Homo sapiens: one gene and its partner. The protein of the gene in region 1 interacts with the protein of each later gene in a pairwise test. Each region holds a gene or a part of one and is shown on either strand. Other genes may lie near its edges.

Region 1 (7,724 bases):
CAGGAGGCTAAGGCAGAAGAATCGCTTGAACCTGGGAGGTGGAGGTTGCAGTGAGCCGAGATTGTGCCACTGCACTCCAGCCTGGGCAACAGAGTGAGACTCTGTCTCAAAAAAAAAAAAAAAAAAAAAATTAGCTGGGTGTGCTGGTGTGAGCGCGTATTCCTAGCTCCTCAGGAGGCTGAGGCAGGAGGATCACTTGAGCCCAGGAGGCAGAGGTTGCAGTGAGCTGAGATCACACCACTTTACTCTAGCCTGGGCAACAGAGCAAGATGCTGTCTCAAAAACAAAGAAAGAAAGAAAGAAAGAAAGAAACCTCTTCCAGAAGGCCAAACACCCAACATGTCTACACTCACTGCACCCAAGTTGGGGTGAGCAAATGTTTTAAATTCCCCTTCTCTTCTTAATTTGCATTTTCCAGATGTCCACCTGGTTGGGTCATAGTTTAACCAAATAAATCATTCGTTGGGATGGGAAAGCCAAGAGTGGGTTCAGCTTGCTCCGCTCACAGGAGCTGCCACAAAGTTCAGAGAGGGGCAGCCACCTGTTGGGGGGTCACACAGAGAGGAGGGAGAGGAAGCTGGGCCTCGTGACCCCAGCCTCTGTTCTCTTGGGGGACTGAGGCATGGCCTTGAGCTCCATCCTTTTTTGAGGGGCCTAGTGTTACTACCTGGCCTCAGCCTTCCCTCCTGCAAACCAGCTTCCTGCTCTCTAAGATGACATCCCAAGATCCTAACTGTCCTGAAATTCTGTTTGCTGGAGGCCAAGCTTCCCCCTTTACTGAACAACAGGAAGGGGACATGAGGGAACAAGCCTGCCTTTTTAGAAAGCCCTTTTCATCTCTGGAAATCAGTCCTCACACACTGGTTCTCCGAAGTCGAAATACTTTTTTGTATCCAGTTTCCTTCACTCCAAGAGTCTGAGAGTTCTTGTCCCGAATGCCCAAGGTCCAGGGGCCCTGCCCTTCCCCAGGGATGATTCTTGGCCAGGCTAGCCTGAGGCCTTGATTATTGTTTTGTTTCTTTCTTCTTTTTTTTTTTTTTTTTTTTTTGAGATGGAGTTTCACTCTTGTTGCCCAGGCTGGAGTGCAATGACACGATCTTCGCTCACCACAACCTCCGCCTCCTGGGTTCAAGCGATTCTCCTGCCTCAGCCTCCTGAGTCGCTGGGATTACAAGCATGTACCATCATGGCCGGCTAATTTTGTATTTTTAGTAGAGATGGGGTTTCTCCATGTTGGTCAGGCTGGTCTCGAACTCCTGACCTCAGGTGATCCGCCCGCCTCAGCCTCCCAAAGTGCTTGGATTACAGGTGTGAGCCACCGCGCCTGGCCATTTTTTTGTTTCTTTTCTTTCTTTTTGTTTTTCTTTTAGAGACAGGATCTTGCTCTGTCACCCAGGCTGCAGTGCAGTAGCTCAGTCATAGCTCACTGCAGACTCGAACTCCTCGGATCAAGTGATCCTCCTGCCTCAGCCTCCCGAGTAGCTGGGACTATACACATAAGCCACCACACCTGCCTAATTAAAAAAACAATTTTTTTTGGCCAGATGCGGTGGCTTACTCTTGTAATCCTAGCACTTTGGGAGGCTGAGGCAGGCAGATCACATGAGACCAGCCTGGCAAACATGGTGAAACAACGTCTCTACAAAAAATGCAAAAATTAGCTGGTCATGGTGGCACACGCTTGTAGTCCCAGATACTCGGGAGGCTGAGGCAGAAAATCAATCACTTGAACCTGGGAGGCAGAGGTTGCAGTGAGCCAAGATTGAGCCACTGCGCTCCAGCCTGGGTGACAGAGTGAGACTCTGTCTCAAAAAAAATTTTTTTTTAAAGCCAGGTGCAGGGGCTCACGCCTGTAATCCCAGCACTTTGGGAGGTTGAGGCAGGTGAATCATTTGAGGTCTGGAGTTCAAGACCAGCCTGGCCAACATGGTGAAAGCCCATCTCTACTAAAAATACAAAAACTAGCCAGGCGGTAGTGGCACGCGCCTGTAATCCCAGCTACTTAGAAGGCTGAGGGAGGAGAATTGTTTGAGCCTGGGAGCTGGAGGTTGCAGTGAACAAAGATCACCACTGTACTCCAGCCTGGGCGACAGGATGAGACCCTGTCTCAAAAAAAAAACAAAGAAAGAAAAGAAAAGAAAAAGAAAATGGGGGTCTCACTATGTTGCCCAGGCTGGTCTCAAACTACTGGGCTCAAGTGATCCTCCTGCCTCAGCCTCCAAAGTGCTGGGATTACAGGCATGAGCCACAGTGCCCGGCCAGCTATTTCTGACTAATTGGGTCTGCAACTAGGGGTTAGGGTGGCCAAGGACACAGGTCACCCATATCTGCAGCCCTGGACCCCAAAAGAGATAGGGAGGGAGGACTGTGACCGTGAAAGTAATGCTGCCACCACCTTGTCATGTGCTAACAACCACACGGGGATGTGACTCTTGTTCCTGTACCCATTGAGGCAAAGGGAGGAGAGTTGGCCCCGGCAGCTGTTGCTCCCCCGTTCCAAGGTTTTGTGCCTACCATCCTGCTGTGACAAACGAGTGTACACCCACAGCAAGAAGGCATAGGGTTGTGCACAGGGGATGCGCTAATGCTAAAGGAGTGCACACCAGGAGAGAGGGACATCACATGCCACATCACAGAGCTCACAGACACATAATAGGGCCTCACAGCACCATGATTTTGGACACACAGCTAACTCTCCAACTCCCCAACTCACACCAAATCTCAGACGCAGAGCCCTTGGACACACAACTTCCAGACCCACACCCTTCAGACACACACCCCTTGGAGACACAACCCCCTCCTGCCACAACCTCGGGGACTCACCACCCCACGACACACACCCCTTTAGACACACACCCCACCCTGGGACGCCCAGCAGTACACCCGGACCTCCAAAACCCACCCAGCCCGCAGAAGCCGTTCAGAGGACACCACAGGAGTCTCAACCCGATATGACACGCACCTGCTCGGCCTGGGCCCTGGGACGCTGGGCGCACGGACCCGCGGCGGCTGCACGAAGATCAGGGGCCCGCGGCCGCAGGTGCCTTGGGAGCGGGCGGTCCTGCCCCCGGGAGCTGATTGGGCGGGACGGGCTTATTTGCATACAGGGCGTCACCCTGGAGGCGGCGATGGGCGTGCACTTGGGCGTGGCCCCGACCCGGGAGTTCATGGGCCTGGGACTCAGACGCGAAAGGATGCTGGGGCGCCATGGGTGGGGGCGCGGATAAGGAAGAAGCAGAACGGAGGGAGGGGGCTGGATCAGACTGGCCAGGCTTTCCCCGCCCTCACTGGGCGCCCTTGACCTTACTGCCGACCCCTGACCCTACTGTGACCCTAACCCTAATTCTAAACCTTTTCCTAACTCGGCCCAACTTGCCTGGATTGATTCCATCCTGAGTGAAATAGACTCCGATCCCGGACCCCGTCGCCCCGAGGAACCAAGCCCTTCTCGCAGGCAACGCTGACCCTCGCGCTCGCTAGAATGGAAAGACTGCAAGACGGGGCTCTCGGGTGGCCTGTGTGGCCTCACTCAACTGTGCCTCCTGGGGCCAGATATGTGCTCCCACAGGGAGTGACAGACCCTCCGCAGCTACTGGTCCCTCAAGCCCGCACCGCCTGCCCCTCCACAGTCCAAGACAACCACACTGCTTCCACCAACCACTTCCCTCTCCTTACCTCTCCCCGCTAAAGGCTGTTTTCTAAACTTCAAAGGTCAGCTGTGAGGGGCCTTCCAGGATTGGACCCCAGCCCAGAACTCTAAATCCACCCCTTCCCCTGGGATCCCAGCACAGGCCAGACCCACAGGAAGATCAGAGCAGGGGTTGGTGAATGTATCAATGTGAAAAGAATTACAGGATAAAGATGGCTCTGGGATGGGCACTTCTGGAGAAGCCCCCGGCCCGTCTGGGGCAGGCAGGGGATCCATGCACTCCCCTAACCCTGTGGGGTCAGGCTTGGGCCAGAGGAGGGATGGGAGGCTGGGACAGGCCAGAATTGGGGCAAGGGCTGTGCCAGAGGAGTCAGGGAGGGTTTCTCAGAAGAGAGGGCATTTGTGCTGGGCTTTCAAGTATGTGTAGGAGTTTGCCACTAGGAGAAAGGTTTTTCTTGTTTTTTTCTTCAAGGCAGGATCTCACTGTGTTGCCCAGGCTGGAGTGCAGTGGCATGATCATAGCTCACTGCAGCCTCGACCTCCTAGGCTCAAGCAATCCTCCCAACTTAGCCTCCCCAGCAGCTGGGACTACAGGCAGGCCACCACCAGGTCCAGCTAATTTTGTTTTTTTTAAGAGAGGATGTCTCACTATGTTGCCCAGGCTGGTCCCAAACTCCTGGGCTTAAGAGATCCTTCCTCCTCGGCCTCCCAAGGTGCTGAGATTACAGGTGTGAGCCACTACACAAGACCCGAGAAGGGCTTTTTCAAGAGGGAAAAGCACTTGCAAAAGTGCAGAGGAAGAGCATAGAACATTCTCTGGCCGGGGAAGATGAGGAAGGTGAAGCCAGTATAGCGGGCAGGGGGTGAAGAGGAGGGGCAGATACAGGTGGAGAGCAATGGGGCTGCAAAGCTGCCTGGTGTCCATCTCCTCCAGAGAAGAGAGGGGCTGGTCCCCCAAACTCAGGGGGAGGCATGTGGCAGATGCTGGAGTGTGGGGGACACTGAGACAGGGAACAGGGGGCCTGGGAGGCTTGTGTCTCTCCCCACACCTCAGTTTACCCGTCTGTGACATGGGCAGTGTGGGCCTCTAGTCTGAGCACAACTTTCTCTTTGGACATGAAAACTATAGAGTTCATACTGTGTCATCAGTGGGTCCCTCCTGTCCCCATCCAGTGCCCAGTGCCATACACTGGGGTGCCCCAAGGACATGCCAGGGCCTGGGCCAGGCTGGGGGCTTCTGCCTCCACTCCATGGTGCAGAACAAGGCTTGGGGAGTGTGGAGGTGGCTGGGGAGCCCTGGGCCCCCGGAGGGCTGCTCTGTTTACCGGAGGCCACCCGCCCACCTCTGATGCAACAGGCAGGCTCTGGTTACGTGAGGCCGGCAGCTGGGCCAGCTCTGGGGGAAGGGCTAGCCCAGCAGAGCGAAGCTGGCTGGGGCTGGCCCTTATGCACCCCAACTCCCCAGCCCCCTCCTTCTGGTGGGCACCATCTTGTTATTCATGGTCTGTCCCGTGTCCTTTTGCCTCTGTTCCTATCCTATACCTTCCCCAACCACTAATTGTGTCCCCTAGCAGGGCCACCAAGAGTCTTAACCTCATTCTTCTCAGATGAAGGGACACCCTTAGTTGCTAGAGTAAGAGGTTGGAAGGTAGAAGGGAAGGTTGTGAGGAGGAAGGGATAGAAGGGTCCAGAGTGGGTGGTGAGGGAGAAGAGTGACCTGGGAAGCAGGTCTGGGAGATGGGGGAGGTGGTGGGTGGGGGATGGAGGAGAAGGCTAGGGTGGGAGGCTGGGGGAGGTGGAGAAGCTGCCCCCGCTGTCTCCCTCCTCCAGATTCTCTCCCCTCTCCCAGGAGAAGGCTTTGAAGGACCTTCCATGATAAGGATGTGTGACCCAGTAGGTAGGGAGGGCCCTGAGGTTAAAGAACCCTGAGTCCCCATCCCAGCTGTGCCGCCCACTCACTGTGTGACCTCAGGATGGTCACTGCACCCCTTGGGGCCTCTTTGCTCATATGAGAAGTGTGGATAGGCTGGGCGCGGTGGCTCACGCCTGTAATCCCAGCACTTTGGGAGGCCGAGGTGGGTGGATCCCGAGGTCAGGAGATCGAGACCATCCTCACTAACACGGTGAAACCCCGTCTCTACTGAAAATACAAAAAATTAGCCAGGCGTGGTGGCAGGCGCCTGTAGTCCCAGCTACTCGGGAGGCTGAGGCAGGAGAATGGCGTGAACCTGGGAGGCGGAGCTTGCAGTGAGCCAAGATCGTGCCACTGCACTCCAACCTGGGCGACAGAGCGAGACTCTGTCTCGAAAAAAAAAAGAAAAAAAAAAAAGCCAGGCATGGTGGCACACACCTGTAATCCCAGCTACTCAGGAGGCTGAGGCAGGAGAATTGCTTGAACCCGGGAGGTGGAGGTTGCAGTGAGCCAAGATCACGCCACTGTACTCCAGCCTGGGTGACAAGAGCAAGACTCTGTCTCAAAAAAGAAAAAAAAAAAAAAAAAAAGAAGAAGTGGGGATAATAGGAGCCCTTAAGGCCCACCTCCAATGTTCCCTCCTCCAAAAGCCTTCCTATCCTCTTACCACTTAGGATCCTTCCACCTCCCCACCCTTCCTTCCAGCTTAGCACTGATCCAGGGGGCGGGGTAGAGTATGTGGCTGGTTCTGTGTCCCCCAGCCTGGGGGTTCCTTGGGCCCGGGCCCAGTGCATGGTGGCACCAAAGGGGTGTCTCCACGGGTTTCTTTCTTTTCATTTTTTAGAGACAGAGTTGCTCTGTTGCCCAGGCTGGAGTGCAGTGGTACAATCATGGCTCACTGCAGCCTTGAACTCCTGGGCTCAAGTGATCCTCTCGCTTCCATCTACCAAGTAGCTGGGACTATAGGAATGCACTACCACACCTGGCTAATTTTTAAATTTTTTTTTGAGGTGCACTGGGTGTCTCGCTTGTTGCCCAGGCTGGTCTCGAACTCCTGGGCTTAAGCGATCCTCCTGCCTTGGCCTCCAAAAGAGCTAGGATTATGGATATGAGCCATTGCGCACAGCCTCCATGGGTTTCTTGAAGAACTGGAGAATCTCAAAGAAGGTCTAAGCAGTGAAAGGGAGTGGGGGATAAGCCTGGGGCACCCAGAAGCCTTGTTCAGGGATACTGTAGGGAAAAGAAAAAAAAAAAAAAAGGCTTTCCAGGGGCCTGAGTGTGCAGGACTCTCCGGGAACCCAGAGGAGTAGGTCTGAAATAAAAACCAGGACTCACACCAATGGCTAAGGACAAAAACCCAGCGGAAGTCTGATTCTTGTCCTGACCACTGTGGACGGAGCAGGGGGCAGGTCGCTGCCCTGTATGGGTCTCCTTTTACCCCATCTGCAGATCAGGGTTGGGATCCTTTCTGGGTGATCTCCAGCCTCGTGAGCACTATGCTTCTGTTTGGATGCCCCATGGCACGGAGAGCTCACTGTCTCTCTTCTAGCTGCCTATCTCTGGAGTTCTGCCGGGAGTTAAATTTTTTTTTTTTTTTTTTTTGAGACGGAGTCTGGCTCTGTCGCCAGGCTGGAGTGCAGTGGCGCAATCTCGGCTCACTGCAATCTCCACCTCCCGGGTTCAAGTCATTCTGCTGCCTCAGCCTCCCGAGTAGCTAGGATTACAGGTGCTCACCACAGCCAGCTAATTTTTGTATTTTTAGTAGAGATGGGGTTTCACCATGTTGGCCACGACGGTCTCAATCTCCTGACCTCGTAATCCACCCGCCTCGGGCTCCCAAAGTGCTGGGATTACAGGCGTGACCCACCATGCCCAGCTGGGTGTTTTTTGAAATGGAGTCTACCTCTGTCGCCCACGCTGGAGTGCAGTGGCGTGATCTCGGCTCACTGCAACCTCCACCTCCCGGGCTCAAGCGATTCTCCTGCCTCAGCCTCCAGAGTAGCTGGGGATTACAGGCATGCACCACACCCAGCTAATTTTTGTATTTTCAGTAGAGACGAGGTTTCATCATGTTGGCCAGGCTGGTCTCCAACTCCTGACGTCAAGTGATCCGCCCACCTCGGCCTCCGAAAGCGCTGGGATTACAGGTGTGAGCCCCCGCGC
Region 2 (7,024 bases), on another chromosome or scaffold:
GCCCCCCAACACCCCAGACTCTGCTGAATAGCCAGCCGTCCCCACTGCTGTCCGCATCTAGACCCCTACGTCCCAGCTCTTCGTGGGTAGCAGGGGCAGATGCCCATCCATCTCCCAGGTGGGGGTGCCTGCTCAGGTGCCACACCACCAGGTACTGGTGCCAGAATTGGACCCAGCTGTTCCTCTGAGCCCATCTGGCTATACCAAGTTCATTTCTATGGCTGAGTTACTTACATCCTCACAAGCTGAGGCTGGCAGGCAGACTCAAGGGCTCCAACCAAGCCTTCAAATTCAGCTGAGGCTCAGTTGCTAGGGGAAGAGGGGAGTCTTCTGAGCTAGAACCTGCCCTTTAAGTGGGCAGGATGGAGGGCCATGATTAGAGTGGGAGAGGCCTTTCGGAATCCCAGGCCTGATGGTGATAGCCCCATGCTGTGTCAAGTGTGTCTAGGGATTCAGTGCCCAAGGTCCATATGATATGGGGCAGTTGGGGGTAGGATGCATTGCAAACTGACATGATTAGAGGGAATACTGTATGTCAGGGATGGTCATCCCATCTGAACCAGTCACTAAAGTTTTGGAGATTCTTCCTATGGGAATAATTTTAAATGGAGAAAAAGGAAAGTGCTTGATACATTAAAATAAAATGTTTAAAAAAAGAAGGCAAAATGACAAGGGGATCTCTGGTCACTGCAGCCATCTTTAGATGACAGCCACAGAAGTCTTGAAGGAAATGCCCTAAGATGTACCCAGAGGCCCAGCGCAGCGGTGGGAGCAGCGGTCCAGACTCCCCGCGCTGGTTGTGATAAGGTTTCTGTGACGGGCTCTCACTTCCTTCCAGGTTGAATATTGACTTTTTAAAGCTCATTGCAGAAAGTGAACAGCAGGGATGGTGTGGGAACAACACCTAAAACCCGCCCCAAGGGCAGGCCTGGGAGACCCTCCTTGAGGATAGAAAGGCAAGAGTGGGGATGCTGCCAGCAGACTAGTGCCCCCAGGCCTCTGCCTGCCACCCACCTGCTTGATGAGCATGTAGGTCTCCGACATGATCCTCTCCACACGGCCCAGGTCATAGGCCACACCCTTCTGGCCCTGCTGCCACACACGGTAGGCATCCAACAGAAGTGTCTTGCCTGACTCTGTGTCCTCCAGGAGCTTCCTCTTGCGGCTGAGCCGGGAGAGCGGCTCCTCCGGGTGGCCCCCTGCCCTGGTCCCTGTGGTGGTGGCGGGGGCGGGGGCGGGGGCTGGCTGGGCTGGGGTGAGCGGGGTGGGCTGCTGCCGGGCACTGATGCTCAGCTCCTCCAGGGACAGCTCAGTGGGCCGGCTCTCGGGGCCCCGGTCCCTTGCGGGGCGACCTGGCAGCAGGGGTGGTGTCCGCTCCAAGTCTGAGTGGCAAACAGTGGCCTCACTCGTGTCCATGGGCTCAGTGGGCCCTGCCCGTGGGCTCTCTTTATCCTTCCGCTCCCCGCTTTGGTCTGCACTGTCTCCTGCATCCATGGCCACAGGCCGGTGGTTGAGGAGGCCCACTTTGCCTCCTGGCTCGGGCCCTGGCCCTGAGCCATCAGCCAGAGGGGGCTTCTTCGGCTGGGGGAGGCCCTCCTGGCCATCCTCAGGACTGGCCTTGTGTGAGACATCGGTGGTCATCCTGGCTCCGGGGAGGCCACAGACCTTGGGCCCTGGGCGTTCTGACCCCTACAAAGAAACCAAAGGTAAGAAGCTGTGTCGCTGGTGTCTCCACTGCAATGAGTCACCTCTGGGGGCTGGTGAGCCCAACCTGGGCCTCTCCCACCTGACATCTGTGTGGCTCCGGACATCTGCCAGCTGGCCAGGGCTGTGTTTCAGTTATCAGAGAAGGACACTGGGCCCAGAGACCTGCCTGAGAAAGGCCTTCCCTCCTCTGCACCTCTGGCTACCCCACCACACTCTTCCAGGTAGCAAGGGGCTGACGGGACTCTGGAGGTGGCACTGCTCCTGAATAACAGGCCTGGGCTGAGCTGGGGCAGCATTGCCCAGCTCCCCTTTGACTCCATGACGTGAACTCCGGGCAGCTCTGGGCATTTTATGGGAGGGGACCTGCCCAGGGCCACCAAGCATGTTTGCTGCAGAGCCAAGTCTTCCTGGCCCTTAATGCACGAGGCCTGGGGTTGGGGGCTGGCAAGGACTCCTCCCCAACAGCCTCAAGTTGATGCCCTCTACCAAGCCACAGCCAGCCCTACCAGGCATAAGCTTTGGAGGCAGTCCTGGCTCAACTCCCAACAGCCCCACCTCGTAGGCTGGCTGCTTAACCTCCCTGGCCTCCTCCAGGTGCTCAGCTGTGAGAAGGAGGTACTGCTGCACCTGCCTCAAGGCTGAAAAGGGACGATGCACACACATGGTGTTCTCATAGGCCTTGGTCAGCCTGCCAGGGAGAGGGCTTGGGACCCCGCCCTGGGTGGTGCAGCCCTTGGGGAGCTCAGTTTCATGGAGTCACTATGGCTCTTACTAATCACCAAGTGCATCCATGACTCACTGAATTCATGTGCATTCATTACCACGGCTGACCTTCCCTGCCTAGGAAGACAGGATGGGTGCTACCTCACAGATGGGGACCCTTAGGCACATCCTGCCTAAGGGTATGCAAATAGAGGGATCGGGCCCACCACCTGGGAAGGGCTTGGAAGCGTGTTCATGGGCCGTGGAGGAGAGGAGGACACAGGTGGCATACCTCTGCGAGCTCGCTCAGCGTGTCTTCGAGCACCTTCACAGTGAGGATGAAGGCCCGCTGCGCCAGGACCTGGCGGTCAGCATCTCGCAGATACTTCCTGCGGTCATACAGGGGTAGTCAGAGAGGACAGGAGGGCATCTGACACCACATGGCACTGCTGGATGGTGGCCACTGCCCATCCCTGCCTTGAGGATGCCTGTTTGTTCCTCAGTGTTCCACCTAACCACCTGTTTGGGGCTGCTCCCCTAGAAGCTTCCCCTGAGCTCCCTCTATCCAGAGCCAGTAGGCCTCTGACCCGGCACCAGCCTGTTGCCCTTAGGCCCTCTGCAGTGGGCCCACCCTGTGTGCTGTGCTCAGCAGCCTATAGCTGCTCCCTCAGGTCTGGCTCCAGGGTGCCCCAGGCCCCAGCTGGAGGCCCCTGAACTCCTGGCACATCGCCTGGCAAGTGGTAGGTGAGTGAGACAGCCAGAGGGTGAGACAGTGCAGGCATGGGAGGAGGCCCAGTCCAGCTGACGGAGTGAGGCCTCCAGGCCAGGCCCATCTACATCTGAGCTGCGTCTCTTCCAGGATCCCCCCAACACCCCCTGTAAATGGCAGCTGTAACAGATGGCTCTGTTATCTGTCCTGCCCTTTCTGGCGGAGAGCTCCCTGTTTACCACTGAGGCCCAGGCACCCCTGTCGCTCACCCCACTGTTACTGGCCTTTGTCTGGGGAACCACAGCTATCTTCTGAACATCTGTTTTCCCTACAACCTGACAGCACCCCGAGAGCCCTGAGTTGGGGGAAGCAGGAGGAAAGGAAAGGCTGGGTAGTCCAGAGTCTCAACGTGGAACCAGGATCAGTGGGGACAGGCTGTGTCTGCCCTAGGGTGCCTGGGGGTGGGAAGTGTTGTTTAGGTTCTAGACACTGGGACAGAGAGGCCCCCAAGGAGAATGAAGAGCTGGTCCAGGCTCCCAGCCAGTGGTCCTCACAGCTGGGCCAGAGCAGTGGAGAGGCTTCCTGGGGTGTGTGTGCCCCTGACCCACACAGCATGCCAGGCTGTGTCCAGGGTGGCTGCACTCACTTGCCCTGGTCTGGGGTCCGCTGAAGCATGGAGGACACCTTCAGCAGGGTGCTGTGGTCCCGCAGCTGGGCCAGCACCTTGAGCAGCAGCACGATGGAGCGGTTCATGTGCCAGGCAAAGCTGCCCGGCCGGTCAATCTCGTCCACGGGGATCCGCCAGATGCCCTGTGGGATGGATGGCACAGGTGTGTGAGGGGGGTGGTTGTGGCAGGAGCCTCGGGGACACCCTGTCTGGTATCCCCTGGAAACTGCCACAGTGCCAAAGGGGACACTGCCCAGCCAGGGGCTTCTTGGACCCCTCTCACTGTCCCAAGGAGACAGAAGTGTATCCCCACCCCCTTCCTTCTCATGAGTGGCAGCAAATGACAGACAGACCCACTGCTCTGCAGCCTCCTCTTTTGTATGGCTGCATCTCATATGTTTGCTGGACCTGTCCCCTATGGGATGCACTCAGGTGGGGCCTGATCAAACGTGAGGACAGACAGTGAGAGGCCCAGTGTGTACACCTCCCTGCACAGGTGCTTACCCAGCCACCAGACCATTTGTTAGAGGTGGAACTGCTGAGTCAAAGCAGGCTGCAGGGAAGCTCTGGCTAGGCTCTGCCCTCACCCACTCTCTCCAGCAGTGCCCAGAGAATCATCTGCAGCTCCTGGGATGCCTGGGGTCCCCCTCCCTCTTCCCACTTCTTGCCATCCTACCCCACTCCTCTTTGAAGGCTTAACCAGGGCAAAGTTGACTTTGGGGAGCACCCCCCATTATCTCCCTTGGTCCTTGCTTTACCTGCTGCAGCACTGGGCACCCCCTACCTATCACTAGCTCCAGGGCCTGGTTCCCTGCAGTGTCCTAGTGACCAGCATGGCATCTGACACCTACTCGGGGTCCAGGCAGGGTGTGGGGAAAGCAGGGAGTGAGTGATGAGGAAACAGGCATTAAGGAGGCCCATCTCTGGGGTGGGACCTCAGGGGCCTGGAATAAGTGAACTGGCTCCTAGATGGGTCCCTGCAGCCAACACGCTGAAGAAACTGCTGCCCAGAATGGACCAAGGTTATGAGTGACATTGCTTTCTCCTTGGCATGGGGCCTGGCCCACATCATGCTGCAGTATAGGATTCTGGGGACTTGGGCCCCCAGCTACAGGGACCACTGCAGGATGTCTAGGTGGTACCCCTCTCAGGGCCCTGTCCCTGTGGGTCCTTGCTGATTATCCACAGTATCTGTACACAGGTGTGGGCCCACCCTGCTCTAGCAGCCCTGGGAGGAAAGCCAGGGCACCTCCAGCCCTGAGCTGTTAAGGCCTGAGAGGAGTTTAAAACTCGCAGCCTTGAGACCCTGTGGCCTCTACACTGGCTCCTGTTGTGACATGGAGGGTCCACCTGCAGGCTGGGGGACTATGTGGAGGCCAGCAGCCACCTTCTACTTCCTGGCAGTGCCTGAAAAGGACAAAACCAGGGTACTGAGGCTATCCACATCCAGGGCAGCAAACATCAATGCTGCATCTTCCTACCATGCAGATGTGGATCCTGAAGCAGCTTATGAAAAGACACCTGCTTTCCAACAGACAGGGTCTATCTACAGTAGGCACCAGAATGGGCAGACACTGTCTCCTGGGTCTCCATCCGCTGTGCTGCAGCAGTACGTCCCGCTGAAGACCCTCCCATCCCTGCACCTCCCAGGGCACATAGACACCAACAGACACACCCGTGAGGACGGGTCTAGTTTGCATCACACACACCAGCACAGTTTGGATCCCTATCTCCTTTCCGTTTCCTTTTGTAACATAACACTGCTGATTTCAGAAAGGATGGAAGACCAAACAAATCAGGCAGTGAGTCCATGGAAAATCAGAAGGGAACCATAGACACCGCCGCCCGCTTGGCCACCCCCATGCTATTGTGACTCTCAAAACTTCCCCAGCCAGCCCTGAGAGGCTTGAAAGGCAGCATTTTACATTTGCATGTGCTCTGGTTTCATTCTGGCATCTTGCTTGGCCTTTTTCTGGTAACAGTGTGCTGAAGGGCACGTTTCCCGGGCAGGGTCAGGCCAGCTAGTGTGCCCTTGTTCATCTCTTTACTGTATCTTCATTCACATGCCCCAGTATGGGGGCTCCTATGTTTATTTACCTTGCACTGGGCACTATTCCCAGAAGCCCCTTCTGTTGTGGGCTTGTCCTTTCCCTGCCCCCAGGATTGGCCCCCTTGCCTGCTCGGCCAGGCCTAAGACCCACCACCAGCCATGGGAATTCAGCCAGCAGATGGGCCCCAGGATCCCAGTCAGGCTTCCCCTCCTAATGAGAGCCTTTAGGAATAACCCCTCTTCTCTGTGGCCTGGGGCGGTGTGCAGATGGACATACCTCCCGAACGGTGAGGGGACTTCCTATGGCCATGAGGCTGGCCTCCAGAGAAAGCTGGTCTGAAGAGTGAAGCCACCAGGCAGAGTCACGAGCCAGCAGGGTGGTAGCAAGCCAACTGGCTTTCTGCCTACACCAGGTGGAGCTGGGCTTCTGTGTTTGCAGCAAGAGACCCATGAGAAGGATGATACTGGCAGCCCCAGGATGACCTGGACACAGCGGTTCCCCACAGAGGGGCAGTAGCCACAGCAGCCCTCTCCCTCCACTGTCCCTCTAACACCGGGCCTGTGGAGGGCTATGAAGCTCCTAGAGAACCAAGGTGCTGAGGAGGGTCTCCTGGAGTGGGACAGGTACAAGGGACAGCCCCTGCTTCACCTGGTTTTCCTCACCACGGCCCACACAGGAGGAAGGGGCATGGCCAGGTTCCAACTGCCACAGCAGAAGCCCCACTGCATTCAGCCCAGGGACTCACGTTCGGGCCTCAGGGAGGGTGTGGAGAATGTGCCAGGGGTGAGCTTGGATAAAGCTAAGTCAGGGCCAGAAAAGAAGGGCATAGGCAGCAGTGACCAAGAGGCCTGGCTGAGGGCAGGTGGAGGGAGCCAGCACCAGGCCAACACCCCCACGGCATCTGAGGGAAAGGCAGAGGCAGGATCATAGATGGGCAGGGGCCATAAGTAGCAGCTGAGAGAAGCAGGGTCGCCGCGAGGAGGGTCTCCTCTGGCCCTCTCCTAGTTCTCCCTCAGCCCTGGGTCCCGCTGCTCTGGCCGTACCCCTTGCCTCGCCTCTCCCAGTTCCACAGGCACACTTGCTGTCTTCAGATTTGCCCCACTTGATTCCTGGGCCCTGGTGTCACCAGGGCTGGGTTCCCTGATGGCCACAGTGGCTGGGATAATGCTTGCTTATAGAGTTGAGGGC

What was found. Proteins that work in one complex are often made in the same cells at the same time.
Region 2: the proteins of MEF2B (region 1) and CABIN1 interact in binary tests that used the Homo sapiens proteins (3 or more experiments, as listed by UniProt).

What each region holds. Positions count from the first base shown.
Region 1 is NC_000019.10:19,167,243-19,174,966, forward strand, and holds the start of MEF2B (myocyte-specific enhancer factor 2B), read right to left. Parts: upstream 3,022-7,724; 5' UTR 2,963-3,021; intron 1-2,962. UniProt on the Homo sapiens protein: Transcriptional activator which binds specifically to the MEF2 element, 5'-YTA[AT](4)TAR-3', found in numerous muscle-specific genes. Activates transcription via this element. May be involved in muscle-specific and/or growth factor-related transcription.
Region 2 is NC_000022.11:24,161,304-24,168,327, reverse strand, and holds part of CABIN1 (calcineurin-binding protein cabin-1), read right to left. Parts: intron 3,929-7,024; coding exon 3,765-3,928; intron 2,799-3,764; coding exon 2,702-2,798; intron 1,690-2,701; coding exon 1,015-1,689; intron 1-1,014. UniProt on the Homo sapiens protein: May be required for replication-independent chromatin assembly. May serve as a negative regulator of T-cell receptor (TCR) signaling via inhibition of calcineurin. Inhibition of activated calcineurin is dependent on both PKC and calcium signals.